Linked DNA regions of Homo sapiens: region 1 is linked to region 2. A link means that fine-mapping ties the variant in region 2 to the expression of a gene that starts in the linked region. Tissue or cell type: breast. Region 2 holds a variant in brackets; the other region holds the start of a gene. All regions are shown on one strand. Distances are between the middles of the regions. Region 1 holds the start of LINC00910 (long intergenic non-protein coding RNA 910). Region 2 has its middle 23 kb from the start of LINC00910.

Evidence for each region. PIP is the estimated chance that this variant, and not a neighbour inherited with it, causes the effect.
Region 1: LINC00910 starts here. The variant in region 2 is fine-mapped to the expression of LINC00910 in breast (GTEx, PIP 0.91).

The regions. Positions count from the first base shown.
Region 1 is chr17:43,386,707-43,391,224 of GRCh38, reverse strand. LINC00910 (long intergenic non-protein coding RNA 910) reads left to right here and starts at 2,327. Exons shown (of 6, transcript NR_027412.1): 1 at 2,327-2,936. It also overlaps the pseudogene RNU2-4P. RefSeq lists enhancers at 1,447-2,200, 2,518-2,747, 2,201-2,954, 3,245-3,760, 3,761-4,276 and a silencer at 2,310-2,604.
Region 2 is chr17:43,363,577-43,367,791 of GRCh38, reverse strand. No RefSeq gene overlaps it. Among named protein-coding and RNA genes, the nearest start is that of LINC00910, 23 kb to the left of the region's middle. RefSeq lists a silencer at 1-191. The variant G/T (reference allele first, on the strand shown) is at 2,198.

The DNA.
Region 1 (4,518 bases), 23 kb before region 2:
CCAAAGTGCTGGGATTACAGGCATGAGCCACCATGCCCGGCCTATTATTAGTATTTTGTAGAGACAGGGTATCCCTGTGTTGTTCAGGCTGGTCTTGAATTGCTGGGCTCAAGTGATCTTCCCACCTTGCCCTCCCAAAGTGTTGGGATTACAGGCATGAGCCACCACCCCTGGTGTCCTCTATACTTTTTTTTTTGGTCTTTTTTTTTACAATTTTTATTTTTATTTTTAAAAATTATTTGTAGAGACGAGGTCTTGCTATATTGCCCAGGCTGGTCTCAAACTCTTGGGCTCAAGCAATCTGCCCACCTTGGCCTCCCAAAGTGCTGGAATTACAGGCATGAACCACCGTGCTTGGCCCTCATATACTTTTTTTTTTTTTTGAGACAGAGTCGCACTCTGTCACCCAGGCTGGAGGGCAGTGGCATGGTCTTGGCTCACTGCAACCTCCACCTCCGAGTTCAAGCGATTCTCCCGCCTCAGCCCCCTGAGTAGCTGGAACTACGAGTGCGTGCCATCACACCCAGCTAATTTTATTTTTAGTAGAGATGGGGTTTCACTACATTGGCCAGGCTGGTCTCTGACTCCTGACGTCGTAATCTGCCCTCCTCGGCCTTCCAAAGTGCTGGGATTACAGGCGTGAGCCACCGCGCCTGGCCTTGGCCCTTATATACTTTTATAGTTCCATTTTTTTCACTTTGAAATCTTTGGCCCACTTGGCATTTATCTTGGTGTATGGTGAGTGAACCGTGATTGTAACACTGCACTCCAGCCTGGACAACAGAGGGAAACCTTGTCTCAAAATATAGATAGATATGGCCAGGCGCGGTGGATCATGCCTGTAATCCCAGCACTTTGGGAGGCCGAGGCACGCGGATCACGAGGTTAGGAGATGGAGACCATCCTGGCTAACACGGTGAAACCCCGTCTCTACTAAAAATACAAAAAATCAGTCCGGTGTGGTGGCACGCACCTGTAGTCCCAGCTACTTGGGAGGCTGACGCAGGAGAGTCGCTTAAACACGGGAGGCGGAGGTTGCAGTGAGCTGAGATAGCGCCACTGCACTCCAGCCCGGGCGACAGTGCGAGACTCCGTCTCAGAAAAAAGAACAGATAGATAGATAGATAGATAGATAGATAGACAGACAGACAGACAGGCCAGGCGCAGTGGCTCACGCCTATAATCTCAGCACTTTGGGAGGCCGAGGTGGGTGGCTGCCATATTGCACTTCACAGGGTAATAGAATGGAGATGACAATGACTCGGTGGAGACTGGGGTAAAGTGAAATGAGGGAAACACTTGCTGAGAGGTTAAAAAAAAAAATAAGGGGGCACCAAAAGACTCAGCAATCCAGATAAATGGCTTGATTATCTTATAATCGAGATAAGATATATTGCATTGAACTATTATTTATTTTGATTACTGAAGGGTTCTGGAGGATCACCCCCTGAAATTCGAACCTAGAGGAATGACCTCACCCTAATCCTGGCCGTGGCTAATAATAACGCCCATCTCTTAGGGCTGTCGAGTGAACTAAAAGAGATAATGCACGTAGAGCCCTCGGACCCGAGGCTGGCATTGGGAAAGGCACAGTTTATATTTTTTGACCTGGTTGTTCACCAGGCAATCCCTGCCATCCGGCTTTCCATCCTGCAGGGGGAGCATGACTGACTGAGTGTCACTATCGGATCTATGATACCTTCTTGCTTTTCTGAAATCAAATAAAAGAGCCATAAACTCTCATCTCAACTGTTGTGTTAGGAAGGAGGACGGGAATGGTAAATGCTGACGCTACAGGCGGCAGTCTGTGCCTCAGAGAGAAAATTTATCCCAACCTTGCTGGGGGCCTTGACGCCCATCTTCCTCCAGAGCACCCCGACAGTCACCCCGCCCTCTGGTGTCCTCCCACCCCGAGCCCGATCTTCCCCCTTCACGCCTGCCCCGGGCCAATAGCCTCCTAACTGCGTCCTCTCTGATTGCGTGTGTCGTGCTCATTACGCCCTATCCGTCGTTTCTTCGCTCCACAAACGTTTACTGAGCGCCTTCAACTTGCCAGGCACTAATTAGACTAGCGCAGAGAAACGGGGATAAGTACTGATGAGGGTCCCAGCCCTCAGCGATCGGATTTCAGAGGGGGAGATAAAGGACTGCCCAGAAGGGTGGTGAGTGGAGTAGTTGATATAAACAACGAGGTGCGATGAAATACACAGGAGGGCTGCTAATCACATATGGGGTGGGTGCCGAGGGCCCTTAATTAAGGGAGGCTTCCTGGACGGGTGACACCCAAGCGGAGTCCTGACGACCCGCGTCAGAAGTAGTCAGGCGAGGAGGAGGGTAAAGGAATCCACGTCCCAAGCAGAGAAGCAGCTTTCCCTACACAGCACAGGACACGGTCCGCGCACAGAAGCCGCAGGAGACGCAGGCACAGGGGCTGGGGAGAATCCTTGCTGGGCCCTCGCCGTCCATGCGCCGCCTCCCTCTGCCCGGTGTCTGGTGTCAGCCTCCTGCCTGGCAGAGGAACTCCAGCCCCTGCTCCCCGAAGCTCCTCCAGGCCTTCTGCTTCCCTGACTCGGAATGGGCCCGCTGTCCAGTGGGTACAAGGCTGGTCTCCCCGCCCACTGGTGACGACGTAAAGATCCAGCTCAGCCTGGTTTCCCCTGGTGATGATATCTTGCGACTCGTCTTTCTCCAGGAAAACAGGGACCGCTCTCCGCCTACAGGTCTCTTCCACAGACCTATCTTGTTTTCACCCCCTGTCTCTTTTGGTTCAGTCTTTTCGCTCATACAAACAAGGAAGTCGCCCCTAGCCCAGCCGCGGCTCCTTAGCTGGAGGCGGGCCCGGGGGTGGAGTCAACCGCGGTGGCCACGCCTCCTGGGAAAGGGCAGGGCATGCAAATTCGAAATGAAAGCCCGGAAACCCCGGAACTAGAACTGGTGTAAGATTTCTCTTGGTTTTTGTGTTGTTGTTGTTGTTTTGTTGTTGTTTTGAGACAGAGTCTCGCTCTGTCGCCCAAGCTGGAGTGCAGTGGCGCGATCTCGGTTCACTGCAACCTCCGCCTCCCGGGTTCAAGTGATTCTACTGCCCAGCCTCCCTAGTAGCTGGGATTACAGGCGCGCGACACCACGCCTGACTAATTTTTGTTTTTTTGTTTTTGTTTTTTTTTTAGATGGAGTCTCACTCTGTCGCCCAGGCTGGAGTGTAGTAGCGCAATCTTGGCTCACTGCAACCTCGGACTCCCAGGTTCAAGAGATTCTCCTGCATCAGCCTCCCAAGTAGCTGGGACTACAGGCACGTGCCACCACGCCCGGCTAATTTTTGTATTTTTAATAGAGACGGGGTTTCTCCGTGTTATCCAGAATGGTCTCGATCTCCTGACCTCGTGATCCACCTGCCTCGGCCTCCTAAAGTGCTGGGATTACAGGCGTGAGTCACCGCGCCCGGCACGCCCGGCTAATTTTTTTGTATTTTTAGTAGAGATGGGGTTTCACCGTGTTCCCCAGGCTGGTCTCGAGCTCCTGAGTCGAGACGGGATTTCTCCGTGTTTGCCAGAATGGTCTTGATCTCCTGACCTTGTGATCCACCCGCCTCGGCCTCCCAAAGTGTTAGGATTACTGGCGTGAGCCACTGCGCCCGGCAGATTTTTCTTTTAAAACGTGGAGAATAAGAAATCAGCCCGAGTGTGTAATGGCGTCAATATTGGTGTGGACAAGACAAAGTGAATGAGGCAAGGAGCGAGGCTGGGGCTCTCACCGCGTCTTGAATGTAGATGAGAGTGGGACGGTGATGGCAGGGAGGAAGGCGACGACATCTCTTCTCGTCCTTTTGGCTAAGATCAAGTGTAGTATCTGTTCTTATCAGTTTAATATCTGATACGTCCTCTATCAGAGAACAATTATATTAGATAGATTTTTGGAGCAGGGAGATGAAATAGGAGCTTGCTCTGTCCACTCCACGCGTCGACCTGGTATTGCAGTACCTCCAGGAATGGGGCTCCCTCTCCTGGGATACAACCTGTTTGCAAGGTTAGAAAGAAAAGACTGCGCCGGGTAGTTTAGGATAGTTGGTAGGTTTTCTTACTCCTTTAAGTATCATAAGGTTCATGATTTATGGAGAGTATCCTAGGACCCAAAACAAGAATATTCATTTCCAAGTAGGGAACATGTTCGACTTTACTTGGAGGGCTTTAAATCTCAGCTTGGCTGTGGAGGGGTGATGACCTTTCAAAGGGATGGATTCCAGTGGTGTGTTGCCCAGGCTGGACTTCAACTTACTCTGTTTGTTTGTTTGTTTTTTGTTTTTGAGATGGAGTTTAGCTCTTGGTACCCAGGCTGGAGTGCAACGGCACCATCTCGGCTCACTGCAACCTCTGCCTCCCGAGTTCAGGCAATGCTCCTGCCTCAGCCTCCCGAGTATCTGGGATTACAGGCACCCGCCACCATGCCCAGCTAATTTTTGTATTTTTAGTAGAAACGGGGTTTCACCATGTTGACCAGGCTGGTCTCGAACTCCTGACCTCA
Region 2 (4,215 bases):
TTACTTCTTTGCTTCTAACCGGATTGAGAATAAGGGAATGCGTATTGGGAAAGTACGCCGCCGAGTCCTGAAACTGGGGACAAGGGTGCTTGTTGGCATCCTGATATGCCAAGGAGGTGCATTGCTAATTTCTGGACTCCAGACAGTTAAAACGTGAAGAAAGCAGGGTGGTCATCCATAAGCCAACGCCAGAAGCGACGTTGTTTAGTCTTCCCCAATGTTGCAGTTACTTTTGCTCTCATTTTTCATATTATTGCTTCCCAACTGCTCACATTTTTTCTTTTTTGTTTTTTTTGATACCGAGTCTCACTCTGTTGCCTAGGCTGGAGTGAAGTGGCCTCATGTCGGCTCACTGCAACCTCTGCCTCTCGGATTCAAGCGATCCTCCCGCCCCAGCCTCCCGAGTAGCTGGGACTACAGGCGTTCGCTACCATGGCTGGCTAATTTTTGTATTTTTAGGAGAGAGGGAGTTTCACCATGTCGGCCAGGTTTGTCTCCTGAACTCAAGTGATCCGCCCGCCTTGGCCTCCCAAAATGCTAGGGTTACAGGCCTGAGCCACCGCGCCCGACCTTTATTTGACTTCTTAGTCAGGGAGCTGAAGCCTGGTCCCTGCGAGTAAGAAAGCCTGGTCCCTGCGAATAAGAAAGGTTTGGGTAGGAGGCCTCATCGGAGGCATCTTGCAGTTAGCCAAGAGTGGGGAGAACTTTTTTCTTGTGGTTTCCGTAGGAGCTTAACTGCAGTAGAATAAAACATCAGTTACATTTCTAAGGTCTTGACTCCAAACCTTGGCTCCTAGACAGCATTCCAGCACCCACCCAGGGCTTGAGGGAGCTCACTGCCCTAAAGGGAGGGACATAATCCTGGCTGGCTTGGCCACCTGATCCTAGAGCTCTACTGCTTTGAGGGGGCATAGGTGGTAGCAGGTAGTGGATCTAGCAGGCCTTTGAGTGAGACCTGGTGCTGTGCTGGGTTTGGGTCTGAACCAGCACAGGGTTGCTTAGGCATCTCAGCACAGAGAGAGACTCCATTTATTTAGGAGAAAGTAAGGGAAAAGAACAAGAGTCTCTGCCTGGTAATCCAGAGGATTCTTTCAGATCTCATCCAAGACCACTGTTGCGGGAAGCTGGGGACCCTGAATGGAGGGACCGGCTGAAGCCATGGCAGAAGAATATAAATTGTGAAGATTTCATGGACATTTATTAGTTCCCCAAATTAATACTTTTATAATTTCTTACGCCTGTCTTTACTGCAATCTCTGAACATAAATTGTGAAGATTTCATGGACGCTTATCACTTCCCCAGTCAATACCCTTGTGATTTCCTATGCCTGTCTTTACTTTAATCTCTTAATCCCGTCATCTTCGTAAGCTGAGGAGGATGTATGTCACCTCAGGACCCTGTGATGATTGTGTAAATTGCACAAATTGTAGAGCATGTGTATTTGAACAACATGAATTCTGGGCGCCTTGAAAAAAGAACAGGATAACAGCAATGTTCAGGGAACAAGAGAGATAACCTTAAACTCTGACCACCGGTGAGCTGGGCAGAACAGAGCCATATTTCTCTTCTTTCAAAAGCAAATGGGAAAATATTGCTGAATTCTTTTTCTCAGCAAGGAACATCCCTGAGAAAGAGAATGCGTCCCTGAGGGTAGGCCTCTAAAATGGCTGCTTCGGGGGGCGGCCATCTTTTATGGTCGAAGCTGTAGGGATGAAATAAGCCCCAGTCTCCCATAGCGCTCCCAGGCTTATTAGGACGAGGAAATTCCCGCCGAATAAATTTTGGTCAGACCAGTTGTCTGCTCTCAAACCCTGTCTCCTGATAAGATGTTATCAATGACAATGTGTGCCTGAAACTTCCTTAGCAATTTTAATTTTGCCCCAGTCCTGTGGTCCTGTGATCTTGCCCTGCCTCCATTTGCCTTGTGATATTCTATTACCTTGTGAAGCACATGATCTCTGTGACCCACACCCTGTTCGTACACTCCCTCCCCTTTTGAAAATCACTAATAAAAACTTGCTGGTTTTATGGCTCAGGGGGCATCACGGAACCTGCCAACATGTGATGTCTCCCCCAGACACCCAGCTTTAAAATTTATCTCTTTTGTACTCTGTCCCTTTATTTCTCAGACTGGCCGACACTTCAGGAAAATAGAAAAGAACTACGTAAAATATCAGGGGTGAATTTTGCCTGATA[G/T]CTGGCTGAATTTCCCCCAATAACCACCAGGGTAGTACCTCTACAAGTCTGTAAGAATCACAGCATGATTGGACTTGGGGCACACATATCCTGGAATACCCAGAAAGCCTTCCCAAGAAAGACACACAGAAACAAGCCCAGACTGTGAAAAATACAGTAAATACCTAATTCTTCCATACGCAGACAAAACAAACATCCACAAACATCAAGATCATCCAAGAAAACATGGTCTCACCAAACCACATTTGTTCAATTCCAGAGGAACTGAGACGTGACATTTCAGACAGAGAATTCAAAATAGCCATTTTGAGGAAATTTAAAGAAACTAGAGAAAACGGCCAGGCGCGGTGGCTCACACCTGTAATCCCAGCACTTTGGGAGGCCGAGACAGGCAGATCACCTGAGGTTGGGAGTTCGAGACCAGCCTGACCAACATGGAGAAACCCCGTCTCTACAAAAACTACAAAATTAGCCAAGCATGGTGGCCTGTGCCTGTAATCCCAGCTACTCCAGGAGCCTGAGGCAGGAGAATTGTTTGAATCCGGGAGGCACCGGCTATGGGGAGCCAAGATCCCCACTGCACTCCAGCCTGGGCAACAAGAGAGAAACGAAAGAAAGAAAGAGAGAAAGAGAGAGAGAGAGGGAAAGGAAAAGAGAAAAGAAAAGACAAAGAAGTTGGAAATTCACAGTTCTATCAGGTGCATTTACCAGAGATTGAAATTATTCTTGCTGGACGCAGTGGCTCACACCTGTAATCCTGGCACTTTGGGAGGCAGAGGCAGGAGGATTGCTTGGGTCCAGTGGTTCAAGACCAACCTAGGCCACATGGTGAAATTTTGCCTTTACAAAAATAAAAAAATTAGCTGGGCATGGTGGCACACACCTGTAGTCCCGGCTACTCAGTAGGCTGAGATCTGAGAATCACTTAAACCCGGAAGACAGAGGGTGCAGTAAGCCGAGATCGTGCCATTGCACTCCAGACTGGGTGACAGAGTGAGACTTTGTCTTAAAAAAAAAAAAAAGAAAAGAAAAAGAAGAAGAAAAAAAAGGACAGGAAGAAGTCAAATTATCCTCGTTTGAAGGTGATATATTTGGAAAAACCTAAAGACTCCACCAAAATTAGGTGATTAGGACTTTGCAATTTACTTGTGTCAACTTATGACAGGAGGGATCGGCCCAGGCAGACAGTATAATGAGGAACAGTTTCTGGTGGAAATACACCAGGCCGATGTACATGTGAACAAGTGAGCAGTCCCAGTTGTCCCACCTCCCATCTAGAGGACTTAAATCCTATAAATTGGGTTTAGTCTCAGCCCTAAGACTCGCTCTTGCCAGACCCCCCACCATTCTGAACAATGACAGCCAAAGGAGGTCATACCTACAAAGGTCTTTGCTGAAGGGGAGTGAAAATTCTTCCGTGTCTATCGGTGCTTCTCAACCTTGGCTATACTTCAGGACGACCGGATACCTCGGTGGAGTGAATCATCCTGAGGTCCTAGCCCCACCGTACAGCCATTAAATTAGAATATTTGGGACAGGGCCTAAGGCTGTTGTACTTCACAGCTTCCGGGGTATTTCCCTGGGACCAAAAGCACCTCTTAGAATGTCCAGTGAAGACAGTAGTCAACTTGGTCTGGAACAACGAATTTTCCCCGGAAGTAAAAGTGTTCAACTCAACGGGAGGCACTCAGTAACCAGTGTGTAAATGAGGGACTAGCAAATCCCTTGGTTTTGTCACTGATAAGAGGCCACCCAGTCCAGTGGGGAGGCTTTTGCACCCAAATTGGACTATGCGCACAGCAAGTCCGGTAGCTTCTGTGCTGTTCCCACTCTGCAGAACTAGATGGACCCCAGCCCCACCACTGACCCCAAATTTATTTTGGAAATCGAGACTGGTGACATCACACAGGGACCGAGAAGGTGTGAAAAGGTTTATAATTCACAAAATGAGGTGTTCTGGGAGATCAGAGTGGCTCCCAGGCAGGTTGGAAAATGGCTTGAGAGGGAGGAGACTGGGT